4 linked regions of the Homo sapiens genome follow. The protein of the gene in region 1 purifies or fractionates together with the protein of each later gene. This does not show direct contact. Each region holds a gene or a part of one and is shown on either strand. Other genes may lie near its edges.

Evidence for each region.
Region 2: the proteins of ALDH7A1 (region 1) and SUCLG1 fractionate together in Homo sapiens (co-fractionation; one large-scale study listed by BioGRID). This does not show direct contact.
Region 3: the proteins of ALDH7A1 (region 1) and HIBCH fractionate together in Homo sapiens (co-fractionation; one large-scale study listed by BioGRID). This does not show direct contact.
Region 4: the proteins of ALDH7A1 (region 1) and SCPEP1 fractionate together in Homo sapiens (co-fractionation; one large-scale study listed by BioGRID). This does not show direct contact.

What each region holds. Positions count from the first base shown.
Region 1 is NC_000005.10:126,585,220-126,588,719, reverse strand, and holds part of ALDH7A1 (alpha-aminoadipic semialdehyde dehydrogenase isoform 1 precursor), read left to right. Parts: intron 1-3,500.
Region 2 is NC_000002.12:84,449,281-84,452,780, reverse strand, and holds part of SUCLG1 (succinate--CoA ligase [ADP/GDP-forming] subunit alpha, mitochondrial precursor), read left to right. Parts: intron 1-3,028; coding exon 3,029-3,132; intron 3,133-3,500. UniProt on the Homo sapiens protein: Succinyl-CoA synthetase functions in the citric acid cycle (TCA), coupling the hydrolysis of succinyl-CoA to the synthesis of either ATP or GTP and thus represents the only step of substrate-level phosphorylation in the TCA.
Region 3 is NC_000002.12:190,288,827-190,292,326, reverse strand, and holds part of HIBCH (3-hydroxyisobutyryl-CoA hydrolase, mitochondrial isoform 1 precursor), read left to right. Parts: intron 1-1,841; coding exon 1,842-1,922; intron 1,923-3,500. UniProt on the Homo sapiens protein: Hydrolyzes 3-hydroxyisobutyryl-CoA (HIBYL-CoA), a saline catabolite. Has high activity toward isobutyryl-CoA. Could be an isobutyryl-CoA dehydrogenase that functions in valine catabolism. Also hydrolyzes 3-hydroxypropanoyl-CoA.
Region 4 is NC_000017.11:56,976,962-56,980,930, forward strand, and holds the start of SCPEP1 (retinoid-inducible serine carboxypeptidase precursor), read left to right. Parts: upstream 1-1,169; 5' UTR 1,170-1,198; coding exon 1,199-1,274; intron 1,275-3,969. UniProt on the Homo sapiens protein: May be involved in vascular wall and kidney homeostasis.

The DNA of each region.
Region 1 (3,500 bases):
CATATTTTGTTACAACTGATGAGCCAATGTTCATGTGTTATTATAAACTAAAGTACACAATTTACATGAGGGTTCACTCTTTGCATATCCTGTTTTGAATGCTAGTGCAACTTAACATGTTGTCTTTTGACTAGAAACGTCTATTGTATGTGTCTATTTATCTAGGGTAAATACAAACATTTGAAAAAAAAAGAATTTATGTGAATTCAGGGTCTTGTCTTTTCCTGAACTGGTTTTTATTCTGAGACTGAGTCTTGCTCTTGCCTAGGCTGGAGTGCACTGGCATGATCTTGGCTCACTGCAACCTCTGCCTCCTAGACTCAAGTGATTCTCCTGCCTCATCTTCCTGAGTAGCCGGGACTACAGGCATGAGCCACCATGCCCGGCTAATGTTTTTTTTTTGTATTTTTTAGTAGAGAACAGGGTTTCACCATGTTGGCCAGGTTGGTCTTGAACTCCTGACCTCAAGTGATCTGCCCACCTCTGCCTCCCAAAGTACAGGCATGAGCCACCACACCTGGAATGAACTGGTTTTTAAATCTATCTTTGCCCTAGGGAGTGCCAGCTGACATTATGATCTTTCTTAAATATTGGGCTGTACTTTTTTTGTTGCTATTTTCACATTCAGGATCTCATTTGGCAGTCAACTCTTACCCACCATGCCAGCCTCTGCACCTAACATCCTTTCTCATACTTCTGGTGCTTTTTAGACCTCCCAACAAATAGAATGGGGGTGCTACGTGGGAACAGGTTGCTTTCCTGGGTAATAGTAGAGTCAGCTGGGGATCCTACTTGTTTGATTTTGAGTTAAGCAATTGAGTTCAAGGTTTAGGGAAGAGGCAGAGTTTTTCCTAATTGTGCTCTGGGGCTCCTCCCTGGGGCAGGGACTTAGAGAGGCTCGGTAAGAACAGACCAAAGCTTGACCCCCTTCTCGTCACAGAAGCTTTCCCATCTCGATCCTCCCTCACGTGAGGCTTCTCTGCTTGGCCCTCATCCATTTGGCTGACCTTGACTGTGTTAGGACAAACCACTGTTTCATGTAGTTCATTTGAGTTAATTCTAGAATTTTTCTTTTTCTTTTTTTTTTTGAGACAGAGTTTTGCTCTTGTTGCCCAGGCTGGAGTGCAATGGTGCCATCTCGGCTCACTGCAAGCCCTGCCTCCCCGGTTCAAGCGATTCTCCTACCTCAGCCTACCAAGTAGCTGGGATTACAGGTGCCCGCCACCAATTTTTTAAATATTTTTAGCAGAGATGGGGTTTCACCACGTTGGCCAGGCTGGTTTTGAATTCCTGACCGCAAGCCATCCACCCGCCTTGGCCTCCCAAAGTGCTAGGATTACAGGCATGAGCCACTGTGACTGGCCAATTCTAGAATTTTTCAAAGGGAACATTTTTCTTTAAGGAAAATGGAAACAAAGTGAAACATATGGAAAGGTAGTTTATAGAAATTGATTTCTTTCTAAGGAATAGACTTGCTGCTTTCTTCCATGAGCCAGTTTCAGCACAGAATGTAGCCCATTTCTGCCGTCTGCATCCCCATGTGTCCTCATTTTCCCTCCCATCTCTGGTGAGAAAGAGTAGGAGTCTCTCTGTTCTTGAAGACAGGGAACTGTTTTTTTTTTTCTTTCTTTTTTCTTTTTTTTGAGACAGTCTTACTCTGTCACCCAGGCTGGAGTGCAGTGGTGCGATCTCGGCACACTGCAACCTCTGCCTCCTGGGTTCAAGTGATTCTCCTGCCTCAATCTCCTGAGTAGCTGGGATTACAGGTACCAAGCGTGGCTAATTTTTGTATTTTTAGTAGAGACAGGGTCTCACCATGTTGGCCAAGCTGGTCTTGAACTCCTGATCTCAAATGATCCACCTGCCTCGGCCTCCCAAAGTGCTGGGAATACAGGCGTGGAACCACAGCCCCCGGCCATAATTTTCCAAAACCACTTTCTCTTGCTTTTCAGCCTTTGCATATGCTCTGTACCCCTCTAACCCCATGCTTTTCCTCCACTTTGCCTACCTCTTCACAACACCTGGCATGCTTTAGGTCTTAGCCCTAAACTTCTAAACTTGTAAAAAGCCTACTTCAGGTTGCTCCAGTTGTGAAATCTAGCTCCCCTTTCATGGCATTTGCCACATTAGATTGTAATTGCCTGTTTCTTGCCTTTATCACCCCCATGGACTGTCAGCTCTATAGAGGGCAAGAATTGTAACTGCCTCATTTGCAGTAGAATATCCAGGGATTAGCACAGTATCTGGCACATAGAACATATGCAATAATTATTTGTTGAAAGACTGACTGAATAAAATGTGTCCAGAATGGGAGGTAAAAGGCCATGTATACTGGCCATTCTGAGTTGAAATTAACCAACTTAACTAAGCTTATAAATGTGCTGACTAAATTCAATTGAAACATCATTAAACCCACACCATGTGCTAGGAAATGTATAGGTTATGTGCTGATTGATATAATGCTACAGGTTTTTGTTTCCTGTTTCCAAAAGTGTGCATATGTTGTGAAAATGACAGACATTGCAAACATATAAATTGTGGATGAAAATCTGTTATAATTTCATTCCCCACAAAAAACCATTGTGAACAGCTTGGTATATGTTGCTCCAAATTTAAGCAAAAGTTTACTTACCATAAGTGTTTTCTTGTTTTGTATTATTCTATTATAGCTTTTCAATGTTTTCCCATAAAAATCGACCTTATTTTATCACTGTTCCGTAATTAACCAATCATGTGCTGATGGACAGTTGGTTTCTTTTTTTCTTTACTAGAAACAGCACTGCAATGAATATCATTGTACCTATACTTTTGCATACTTATGTATATAAGCTCAGTTTCTGTAAGCAGAGCTGCTTAGTTAAAGGGTAGGAATGTCATGCCTGTAATCCCAGCACTTTGGGAGGCCGAGGCAGGCGGATTACCTGGGATCAGGAGTTCGAGACCAGCCTGACCAACATGGTGAAACCCCATCTCTGCTAAAAATACAGAAAATTAGCCGGGCGTGGTGGCAGGCGCCTGTAATGCCAGCTACTTGGGAGGCTGAGGCAGGAGAATCACTTGAACCCAGGAGGCAGAGGTTGCACTGAGCCGAGATCGCGCCACTGCACTCAAGCCTGGGCGTGACAGAGCGAGACCCCGTCTCAAAAAATAAATAGATAAAACAAAGGGTAGGAATGTTTTAAATGTTAATAGATTGCAAAGTGACCATCCAGAGAAGCTGTACTAAGAGACAGTGATACACTTGGGGAGAAGAGAGAGCAAGGAAGAACCTTGAGCTCACAGCCAAGCTCTGTGAGGCAAGTGTGAGCAGTGCTGTGATTAGGAGCAGTGGGAGTTAGGGGGAGGGTGTGATTGGCTTCTGCCTGGGGGAAGGTTTCATGGAGGGGAATGTTCCTTTTACCTGTACTTTATTATTTTTTTTGAGACAGAATTTCACTCTTGTCATCCAGGCCGGAGTGCAATGGCGGGATCTCAGCTCCCTGCAACCTCCCCCTCCGGGG
Region 2 (3,500 bases), on another chromosome or scaffold:
ATAGGAGACAAGATGAGTAAGACATGGTCCTGACACTCATGGAGTTTACAGTTAGCAGTGGGAAAAGTATTTAGATGGTACTTGAAATAGTCTTGAAATAAATTTAAGCTTAGATAATTTCACTTAAAAATAACATGATGAAAAGAGTAAGAATATGTGTGCACTCAGTAATGTAGTGTGTGATGGTGTTTATTGTATACCCACATGAAAGCGTTTGTAGCTTCTATTCTTCTTAATCTCAGATCCCTTTTAAAGTCCCCCAGTATACTCATAAATCATGTATATCGTGTGAAGATATAGGAATTCTTGACTGTGTAATGTTTTATTTAAATGTTAATTTATATGGATCAATGTAAGTGAAATTCTCAGAAAGTTGAGGACATTAAATCTTTAATTGAAAGGTAAGAGATATTTGCAAGATGGTTTGGCCACCAATGTATGCCTTGTGTTCTAAATTTCACTTTAGGAAGTCACTTACTGTAGTAATTTGGTGGCTTTGTCACCCTCCCCACCTCTTACACATTCATAGACTTCTCTACCTTGAATAGGTGTGGGGAGTTTATCCACCCCAAATGCCCAAGGCTTTTTTTTTTTTTTATTATAGTACTTCACACACCACGCAGTTATGGCCCACTTTTATATGAGTTCAGATAGATTGTGAATTATTTGAGGGCTGAGACACTGTCATTCATCACTTTATCCTTGACACCTGACATTATGGCTTGGTATGGGTGCTCCTCAAATGTTGATTGAATCAATGAACGAACTCACATTTCAGTACCAGATGATAACCTTGTCTGGCATCATACAGGTTTATTGTCAGGATGGAATGTGATCAGGAATTTCACTTCCTTGCCATTGAATACATTTCTTGGATTTGCCTGTAAGACGATAATAGTCTGTTAGTTCCAGCTTATCTAGAAGTGGGTCTGTATGAGCCCAGGCCTGGTGTGTAGATGGGGAGATCACACATGCATGAGCGCACACACATCTACACCTGTGCATTAGAGGTTTCCCAAGATTTAGTTAATTAGATGCTGCAGGCTCTCAGGGGCATTGCACAGGCTGAGTAACACTAAAAGGCTAGGGGATTGGGAGGTAAGCTGCTGTTTATCACACTTCTGATACACTTTTTATGAGCACCAAAGATCTGATGTTGTAAAATCTTGAGCTCCATAGAATTGATCCAGGAGATCTGGAGTTACTACGAGAAAGCAGAGATCTTCGTTGGTCTGTTATTGGAGCTGTGCTTTAGGGACACAGACAGACCTGCCTTTTCTCAGGGTGACTTCTGCTCCTGTGGAAGGAGAAGTGAATTGTCTGATCTTTGTTAAGTTAGTGAGTATAAGAGTACTTGTGCAGAACCAAACTTTACCTACAAAAAGTATTTTATGTTAACAAGTAGGGACTCCAGATATCCTGATCATAACATCTGATCTTATAATCAAATCTTCTACCTTCTGGTCTGAAAACATATGGTATGATATGATATGATATGATATGAGCATTTGTTGAAGATGCAATGGGAGGGACTGGTAAAGCCAATTCCACTAGTCAGAAATTGTAGCAGGGTAGGAAAGGGTGTAGCTTCTACACAAATACCATGGTTGTAGGTGTTCAGCTGGGAGAAGTGGAAGCCAAGGGCAAGAATGGGTCTCGAATGCAGCACTGGCAAGGGTGGGCTGTGCTGCACAGCTCAGTAGGGACAGGGTCTCAGGCCATAAATCCCTGCTGTGTCCACTGGCCTAGAGTCAGATGCTTAGCTGTGACTGATGTGCCAGAACTTGACCTGCAAAGCCCATGGCCCCTTGTTGAGCACAGTCTAGTATGAGAAAGCTGCCTGTTACGTAGCAGTTCTTTGTGTGTACCAAATATTATCCAGGTGGTAAGGGCTAAATCTGGGCCTGTCTTCTCCCTAGAGGTGTAAGGGATTCCATATACTTCCTCCAGAAGCAGATGTTGTTGCTCTTTCAGTTATGTAATGTGAGGTCAGGACTTAGGTGGGTATGAGGCAGTGATTTAAGGCAGAAAGCATGGAGTGGACTCTGGGCAAATATGTGACAGGTGTTCTTTTTTTGTTGTTCAATAGAGATTACTCCTTATGTTCTTTTCTTGGGCTAGCTTCATGGGCTACCACAATGATAGGTAGAAGGCCTGGCTACTTTGAAAGGGCCAGGGATGGGCCACAGAGAAGTCAGGTTGTTAGTATTAATGGACATTTAGAAGGTAGCCCAAAATTTTAAGTCATCTATGTTCCTCCTACTGTGTTTTGAAATGTGGGGAGCTGGTTGTAGTAACTATTTAGATTTCTCAATTTCTCTTTTAGGTAGGTTGCTGCAATAACCTAGGGTTTTTTTTTTTTTTTTTTCCTAACAAGCTTTTTCCTGTCTTGTCTACTTTCCTATTTGTTTTATTTTCCCTGTGTCTTTTATACATGAGTTCATATCAGAAGAGATTAAGTGATTTTGTATTATATTTTAGATAAGTTTTATCCTATGACTTAACATTTAATATGTTGTTCTTACTAGAGAATGAGTTGCTGAGTGATTTTTACTTGTATTCCTGACAAAGTTTGCCTCTTAGCTTACCTATTTAAAGGTATTAGGCTTTAAAAATTTGGGTCAAGTGGGGAAACGTGGCTGTTTAGTAAACATTGTTAATAGGGGTGACATTTTGTTTTCAGTCCCTGGATTTAATTTTAACCATTTATCTTTGAGCCCCAGTTTTTTTCTAGGAAATAAAAATGATAAACATTGCTTTTTTTTCCCTCAGTTCAGGAAAAAACTACAAGATCGTGGTTCTTGATAAAGAGAGGATCCTGGAGAATGGAACAATGTCTTGTCTGTTTTTCTTATTTCTGTGGTCACTGTGTCTTATTTAAAAGGTGGCATTTAGGTTTGCCGTGATCACAGGATAGCGCGTGCATTAAAGAATTTTTTTTTTGTGATCAAGTTGAATTATTGTTCAAAAGTTTAGAAAAATTATAATGTGTCTTTTTTTTTTTTTTTTTTTTTTTTTAACCTCTTAGTGCCGCAGAATGGAATTCGGCATTGTTCCTACACAGCTTCTCGGCAACATCTCTATGTTGATAAAAATACAAAGATTATTTGCCAGGGTTTCACTGGCAAACAGGTATGTATATCTAGATTTTTATTTTCAAATGTAGACTAGAGATATAACAAATTAACTATTTTTTTATTTTTAATATCTCAAAAATAACACATGATTGTTGCAGAAAAATATACTGTACAGCAATGGGGTTGTATCTCAGGAGGAGGTTAGTTGCTATTGTCAGCCTATAACATAAAAATTGTGTTTAAACTTACCTTGCAAAGGAGTATATTGTATGCTTACTAGGAGTATATTGTTTTGGAGGCCCATACACTTTCTTTCAGCAAATACAACACTAATGATTTTCCTCCAGTGTTGAAAGAGATCACCGTTTCTTTGACTAAGCACTAGGTCAACTAGATTCTTGTGTTTAGGTTTTGTACAAACAG
Region 3 (3,500 bases), on another chromosome or scaffold:
TTCAAAAACAAACACCCCAAAAAACCAGGAAAAGAAGTCGACATATGGAACATTTTGAAGGAAGAGATATCAGAATTCTAGAGTTAGGAGGCCCGAGCCGGCAGATCACCTGAGGTTGGGAGTTCGAGACCGGCCTGGCCAATATAGTGAAACCCCTCTCTACTAAAAATACAAAAATTAGCCAGGCATGGTGGCACATGCCTGTAATCCCAACTACTTGGGAGGCTGAGGCAGGAGAATCACTTCAACCTGGGAGGTGGAGGTTGCAGTGAGCCAAGATTGTGCCACTGTACTCCAGCCTGGGCAACAAAGCGAGATTCTGTCTCAAAACAAACAAAAAACAAACAAGAGAATTCTAGAGTTAGTGTAAGAATTGGTAGACAACATTTTGTATGTAATACTTTCCCATAAAAGAGGAAACATATCTATGAAATGTTTAGTTTGTGTTTTAATAGATAAATCTCATAGGACTTAAAGACAAGAAAGGCATATGAGTTGCAGTATATAGAAGAGGAAACTTTGATAGCAGTCTTGAGATTGACTGGAGGAGGAATATGGTAGGAGATGTGAACTCTGGGTAATAGAAGATTGCAACAGAAGTGAAACCATTTGATAGTGTTCACTATTCAGTAGATATTTACTGAGCATTTGTTTTTTAAGCCAGGCAGTGGTATGCTGTAGCAATGTCTTTGAGAATTTACATTTCTATCGATGTTAATAAATAAGAATGTCAGTATATTATTTACCTGTCTAGCCTCACCTTTTCCCTTTGCCCTTTAGTCTTTTAAAGCTGTTTGATTCTTGATTTTACTCTTCTTTCTTGACTTTGAGGCTTTGTAGGGTACTGCTTCCCCTAGTCAGAATTTTTCTTTCTGTCATTTTCTAGGAAATTCCTATTTACCTTTTCCAACTTGGCTTAGGGTTACCTCTTCTAGGAAGCCTTCTTTTAATTAATTACACATCTCCTGCTCCCATTCTGACAGCACCCCAATCCTTACAGGACAAAGAATATGTTTTAGTATCAGTCTAAACTCCAGGACAGCCATCTTGTGTTGCTGTCTTTATTATCTGCAACACCTAAAACATTACTTGGTATGTAGTAGGTGCTCAATAAATGTTTTATGGGGGAAATGAATGTGGCAGAAATATTTAAGGACATGGGATACGTTGTAGCACTATACACACACGTATAATACATTTTGTATTAAGACATATTACCAAAGGAAATGTATGTCTAGCAAATGTTAATTTAAGTGCTAGAGAAAATAATCAAAAGAAAATGTAGCTTGTTGCAATATATTATTATTTTTTTTAAGGAGACAGGGTGTCACTCTTCTCTCCAGGCTAGAGTACAGTGGTGTGATGATGGCTCACTGTAGCCTCAATATCCTGGGCTCAAATGATCCTCCCGGCTCAGCCTCCTGAGCAGCTGGAACTACAGGCATGTGGCACTGCAGCCAGCTAATTAAACATTTTTTGTTGAGACAGAGTTTCACCAGGCTGGTCTCAAACTCCTGGCCTCAAGGAATCCTCCCACCTGGTTTCTCAAAGTGCTGCGATTACAGGTTTGAGCCACCATGCCCAGCCTATAATTTCTAATCTAACATTTTGTAAGAAGCATGGAAAACAAGAATAGGAATTTTTGCCTTGAAGCTTTGACATTGGACTATGGATCTGTGACTATAATATAATGTCTGTGGCAGGGGCAACTTCAAAACTTTTAACAAGTCATTTTAGAGTACTCCCTTCCCCCAGTATTTAATTTTCATAATACTTTTGATCTAGTTGACAATGTTGACTATTAAATCTTTTTTTTTTTATTTGTAATCTTTCCTTCCTAGTGATCTCGGAAGCTGAAAAGGCAAAACAGAAGATAGCTCCAGTTTTCTTCAGAGAAGAATATATGCTGAATAATGCTGTTGGTATGTGTATTCTGCTCAGAGCTTTGGAAATGGAATAAAGAAATGAGGTGGACAGTATGTACTTTGTTAAAAATGCAATCAATAGGCATCCTTACTTAAACTTTTAATACCATGTGCCAGGCATAAGTAAAGTTGATTAAACTATTTTAAGTGCTTATTTCAGAACAGTTACCCTTTAATATTAGTAGGCTATACTTAACTGCTATTTGTTATAAAATCAATATGAGGCCAGGCATGGTGGCTCACGCCTGTAATCCCAGCAATTTGGGAGGCTGAGGTGGGTGGATCACCTGAGTTCAGGAGTTTGAGACCAGCCTGGCCAACGTGCTGAAACCCCGTCTCTACTAAAAATACAAAAATCAGCTGGGTGCGGTGGCAAGTGCCTGTAATCCCAGCTACTCGGGAGGCTGAGGCAGGAGAATCAGCTTGAACCTGGGAGGTGGAGGTTGCAGTGATTCGAGATTGCACCACTGCACTCCAGCCTGGGCAACAAAGCGAGACTCCGTCTCAAAAATAAATCAATATGAAAATATGGATTTCTCATCATGTGGTAGCTTTCTTGGGGGAAAAAACTTGGGTTCCAGTTTTCTCTATGAAATGAAGTATAGTATCATTTCCTAATTCTTAGGAATAAAAATTTCTTTATATTCAAGGTTCTAGGTTTCATTGGAGGTGAAGCAGTACTTTTATCTAGCATGCGAAGTTAAGATACAGGAAATAACATAATAAGTACTTGTGTACCCTCCAGCCCAGAATTAACAGACGTCAATATTTTGTTTTTGCTTGATGATTTAAAATTTCTCCAAAAGAAATATAATACTGCAAGTTTGGAAGTTACATTTCAGCCCATTTTTTTGCTTTCCTCAGTGCCATTACTTTCCCCAGAAGCAACCATTTATCCCTCCTCAAAAACAACCATTGTCATTAATTTTTAGTGTATTCTCCTAGACCATATTTGACATTTTTACTAAATATTTATGAACTAAAAGATTTTAAGTTAGAATTTGATTGAATACATGATATTAACGTATTTTGACATATAGTTGGAAAAATAAATTCAGTTTTTGTCATGTGCCTTTTAGACAAATAAACATTTATATATTGGCATAAAAACATGAATTAATATCTAGTAGATTAAACACATGGGGATATATATGTTTTTCTAAAAATATGAATTGATGAAAATAATTACTAAGTGATGAAAAAAGCTGTATACTCATTTAACATTAAAGTATTTAAAATAGTAAAACATAAGTTTATTTTTATTTTATTATTTATTATTTATTTATCTTTTAAGAGAGAGTCTTGCCCTGTCACCCAGGCTGGAGTGCAGTGGTGCGATCTTGGCTCACTGCAGCCTCTGTCTCCCAGGTTCAAGTGATTCTCCTGCCTCAGCCACCTGAGTAGCTGGGATTACAGGCATGCACCACCACACCCTGCTAATTTTTGTATTTTAAGTAGAGACAGGTTTCACCCTGTTGGCCAGGCTGCTCTCGAACTCCTGACCCTAGGTGATCCATCTGCCCCGGCCTCCCAAAGTACTGGGATTACAGACATGAGCCACGCACCTGGTGTGGT
Region 4 (3,969 bases), on another chromosome or scaffold:
TTTTTTGTAGAGAGGGGGTCTCAATATGTTGCCCAGGCATTATGGATTTTATGCATTCGGGACCATCCCATGCTTAAAGCATGACAGAACCCGGCGGCATATTTTTCTCTGCCGCAGCTTTCAGTGCAGGGGCACCTCACAGGCAGGGCGGGGTCAAGGCTCTGTCCAGACAATGGCTGCAGAGTAAAAAGCACTTCCATTTATGGGGGTCAAGGGCGAGGGGAGGGAGAAAGGAGCAGGGAAAGAGGAGAAGTGGCCACATGTACTTTGATTTGTTTTTTGCTTTTTGTTACATGTACTTTTGAAGCAGTATTTAGAAGTAGCCTCTCCTACAGCCCCTGCTGTAGCTTGTCTCCTAGCTGTGAGGTGAGTTATTCAGTACCCTCTAACGTAAAAATGACCTTCAGACAGACAGACAGACACACACACACACACACACACACACACAGAGGAAAACAGCTCTGTCATCCACTTTTTCTTCCTTTCCCGTCCCCAGACCCTCGATTCTCTCTTTAAAATGACTGCTGTGAAGATAACGTAACACAGAGTAATACTAATGACAAATTATCAAAAAAGAAAAAAAAAATAAAAATCTTTATTAGTGTTTTTTAAAATGACGTAAAAGACTATGGGAAAAAATGCCAACAATAGTTATGTATAACTTTTTTGTTCATATTTCCAAAACGTTTATAACATACATAACTTTAAAAGAAAAATAATTTAAAAAATACATATCTGAAAATGAAACCCCGCTGTTTGCCAACGACCAGCTGGCTTAATCTGACTTCGCAGATGTAGCAGTGTTGGAAAACGTCGGTTCTTTTGCTGAGGGAAGGAAGAGATGGGAGGGGTAGAAAGGGCGGTGGTTATTCCCTTTAGTATTTCGATCCGGTCACACAACCTAAATCCAACATCTGCATCAAATGTCTCCTTTCCGAAATACTCTCCCTAAAATGACAGAGAACCTGGCCAGGCGGACAGAACGGCCCCTGCGCATTTGCAGGGGTCCTGGTGGGCTTGCCGGGCAGAGGGCGTGCGGGTCTCAGCAAGCTGCCGGGTCCGCCCAGGCCCCGCCCCATGCCCATTCAGGCCCCGCCCCCGACCCGCAGGCCCCGCCCCCGACCCGCCCCGTCCGCCTCCGTCACGTGATGGGGCGCCGGGTCCAGCCTGTTGCTGATGCTGCCGTGCGGTACTTGTCATGGAGCTGGCACTGCGGCGCTCTCCCGTCCCGCGGTGGTTGCTGCTGCTGCCGCTGCTGCTGGGCCTGAACGCAGGTAGGTTCAAGCAAGAGGCGCACCAGCTGCCATGCCTCTTTTTTCTCCAGGCGTGAGAGTTTGTTACTGGGTTTGTGCTTTTGAAAACATGTCTCTTTTCCCCGGTTCTTACCTTGTGTAATTATATTGCTTTTGAATCTCACTCTTTTTTTTTTTTTTCCTTAAAAAATTCAAAGTGCTTTTTTTGTCCTTTTCTGGCTCTGGGTGGTCTGAGTGCTTCCGTTCTCTCCTACGCCTAGATAGAAGCTGTGTGCAGAAATGTATGATTTGGGGAAACTGCTGGTCAATGAGGTTTCCCCGATTCAAAGGCCATGATTGGCTGCTAAATGAGGATATAAGGTCGTTTTATTTTAAGCTGAAATCTGCGGTCAAAAGTACCCTTACATCCTACCACGAATGGGACATTTCATTGAGATAAGGCCCTTTCTTTTCTTGATCAAAACAAACAAGATAACATCTTCCCCCACAGCGATCTTTTTTGGCAAAAAACAGATTTGTGTTTAATAGGATGACTTGCAAATTGATTTTCAGCAAAACCTCTCCTAGTCTGAAGCAAGCACTGAGAATTGGAACTGGCCACAAGCTTGCCTTGTGACCTTAGGCAAGTTGTTGAACAGTTTTGTTTTCCTTTTCTAAAATGGGGATCATCTGGCCCTTAGGCGAGTGTCTGGGAGATTTTGTAAAATAAGTAGCTCTGCCAATTTTACCAGTAGTCACTGCCAGGCAAGGGAGAAGTGCCTGGGGTTAGGTCAAAAGGTACCTGCGCCTTATCTGTCATTCTCAAGGGAGCGCAGCCTTATCTGTTATTGTCAAGGACAATATAATCGTGTGTTACTTGTATATAGAACCTTATAGCTAAGTCTGTAATGTTTTAGTCATCTGTTTTGCTCCTCAGGACACTTTCTGGTTTTCTTAATCTTCATTGTTGTTTTGTTTTGAGTCAGGGTCTCACTATGTTGCCCAGGCTGGTCTGGAACTGCCTGACTCAAGTGATCTTCCTACTTCAGCATCCCAAGTAGCCCGGACTGCAGACACAGGCCACCACCCTGGCTCTTTCTTATTTACAAGACGTTGTCTCATTGTCTTCCTCTCTACTCCTGTCTCTTTAGCTGTTGGGACCAGTGTTCTTTTACTGACCAATGGGGCTTGAAATTTGAGAAGGGAGGAAATAGAAGGCAGAAAACTCCAGTCACCGAGGGGATCCCCCCCATCATCTTTTAACAACAGCCCCTCTACTTTTTTTTTTCCCAGAGTGGTTTTGGAGGAAAAAAAAAAAGATGCTATAACTTGGAAATTGTTACGTTAGCAAAAAGTGACAAAGAAAATGTATTTAGCCTACTCTTTTCTAAAACATATTTTGTGGATGCTAGAAAAGTTAAGTAAGGAAAATTGGAGTTAGGGGATTATAGGATACGTATATTAAACACACATACACAGATATATATCGTTCAGTTTAAAAAAATCATCTACATGAGTTAGGAAAATTGCCCTTTTTCATATTTGTTGTAGCTCTTTCCTTGCTGTTTGCCTTTTTATTTTTGATTTACAGAAATTTTGTTGTATAGAAATATAACAAGTTTCTGTTCTCACCTCCATCATTGTTTCTTTTGTACAGTCTCTGGGGTTTGCTTAGATTCTTTCCTCATCCAGACATTAGAAATATATTTAACTATATTTTTGTATTTTTTTAATGTTTAAAGTTTAAAATTTAATTGCTTGATCCTCATGGAACTTATTTCGTTTATAGTGTTGAGAGGACCTAAATTTCTCTTTTTTTCTCCAAAAAAGGTAATTGTTGCTCCATTACTGTATATTGAATATTCTCAGCCCCACTAATTTGTGATGCCTCTTCACTCATGTTTTTTGTTTGTTTGGTTGGTTGGTTTTTTGTTTTTTTGAGATAGGATCTCCCTCTGTCACCTAGGCTGGAGTGCACTGGTGTGATCACAGCTCACTGCAGCCTCAACCTACTGGGCTCAAGCGATTCTCCTACCTCTGTCTCCTGAGTAGCTGGGACCACAGGCATATGCCACAATGCCCAGCTAATTTTTGCATTTTTTGTAGAGATGGGGTGTTGCTATGTTGCTTAGACTGGTTTTGAACTCCTATGCACAAGCTATCAGCCTGTCTTGGCCTTCCAAAGTGTTGGGATTACAGGAGTGAGCCACCAAGCCTGGTGTCTTACTCATGTATTAAATACGATATAAAAACCAGTATATTGCATTCTGAGATTTTTACTTTTTTACTCAAAATATAAATCTCTCTTGTTTTTACAGAATTATAAAAGTATTTCCTGTAATCCCAGCACTTTGGTAGGCCTAGGCGGGCAGATCACCTGAGGTCAGGAGTGCGAGACCAGCCTGACCAACATGGAGAAACCCCATCTCTACTAAAAATACAAAATTAGCCAGGCGTGGTGGTGCATGCCTGTAATCCTAGCTACTTGGAAGGCTGAGGCAGGAGAATCGCTTGAACCCGGAAGGCAGAGGTTGCGGTGAGCCGAGATTGCGCCATTGCATTCCAGCCTGGGCAACAAGAGCGAGACTTCGTATCAAAAAAAAAAAAAAAAAAAAAAAAGTGTTTCATATTTATTGTTAAAAATCCAAACATTACAGAAAAGTGTAGAGGAAAAAGTGAAAGCCCCTGGCCTCCTATGCCGCTGTTAAGTTTGGTTTCTTTTTTCATAGCCGAGGTT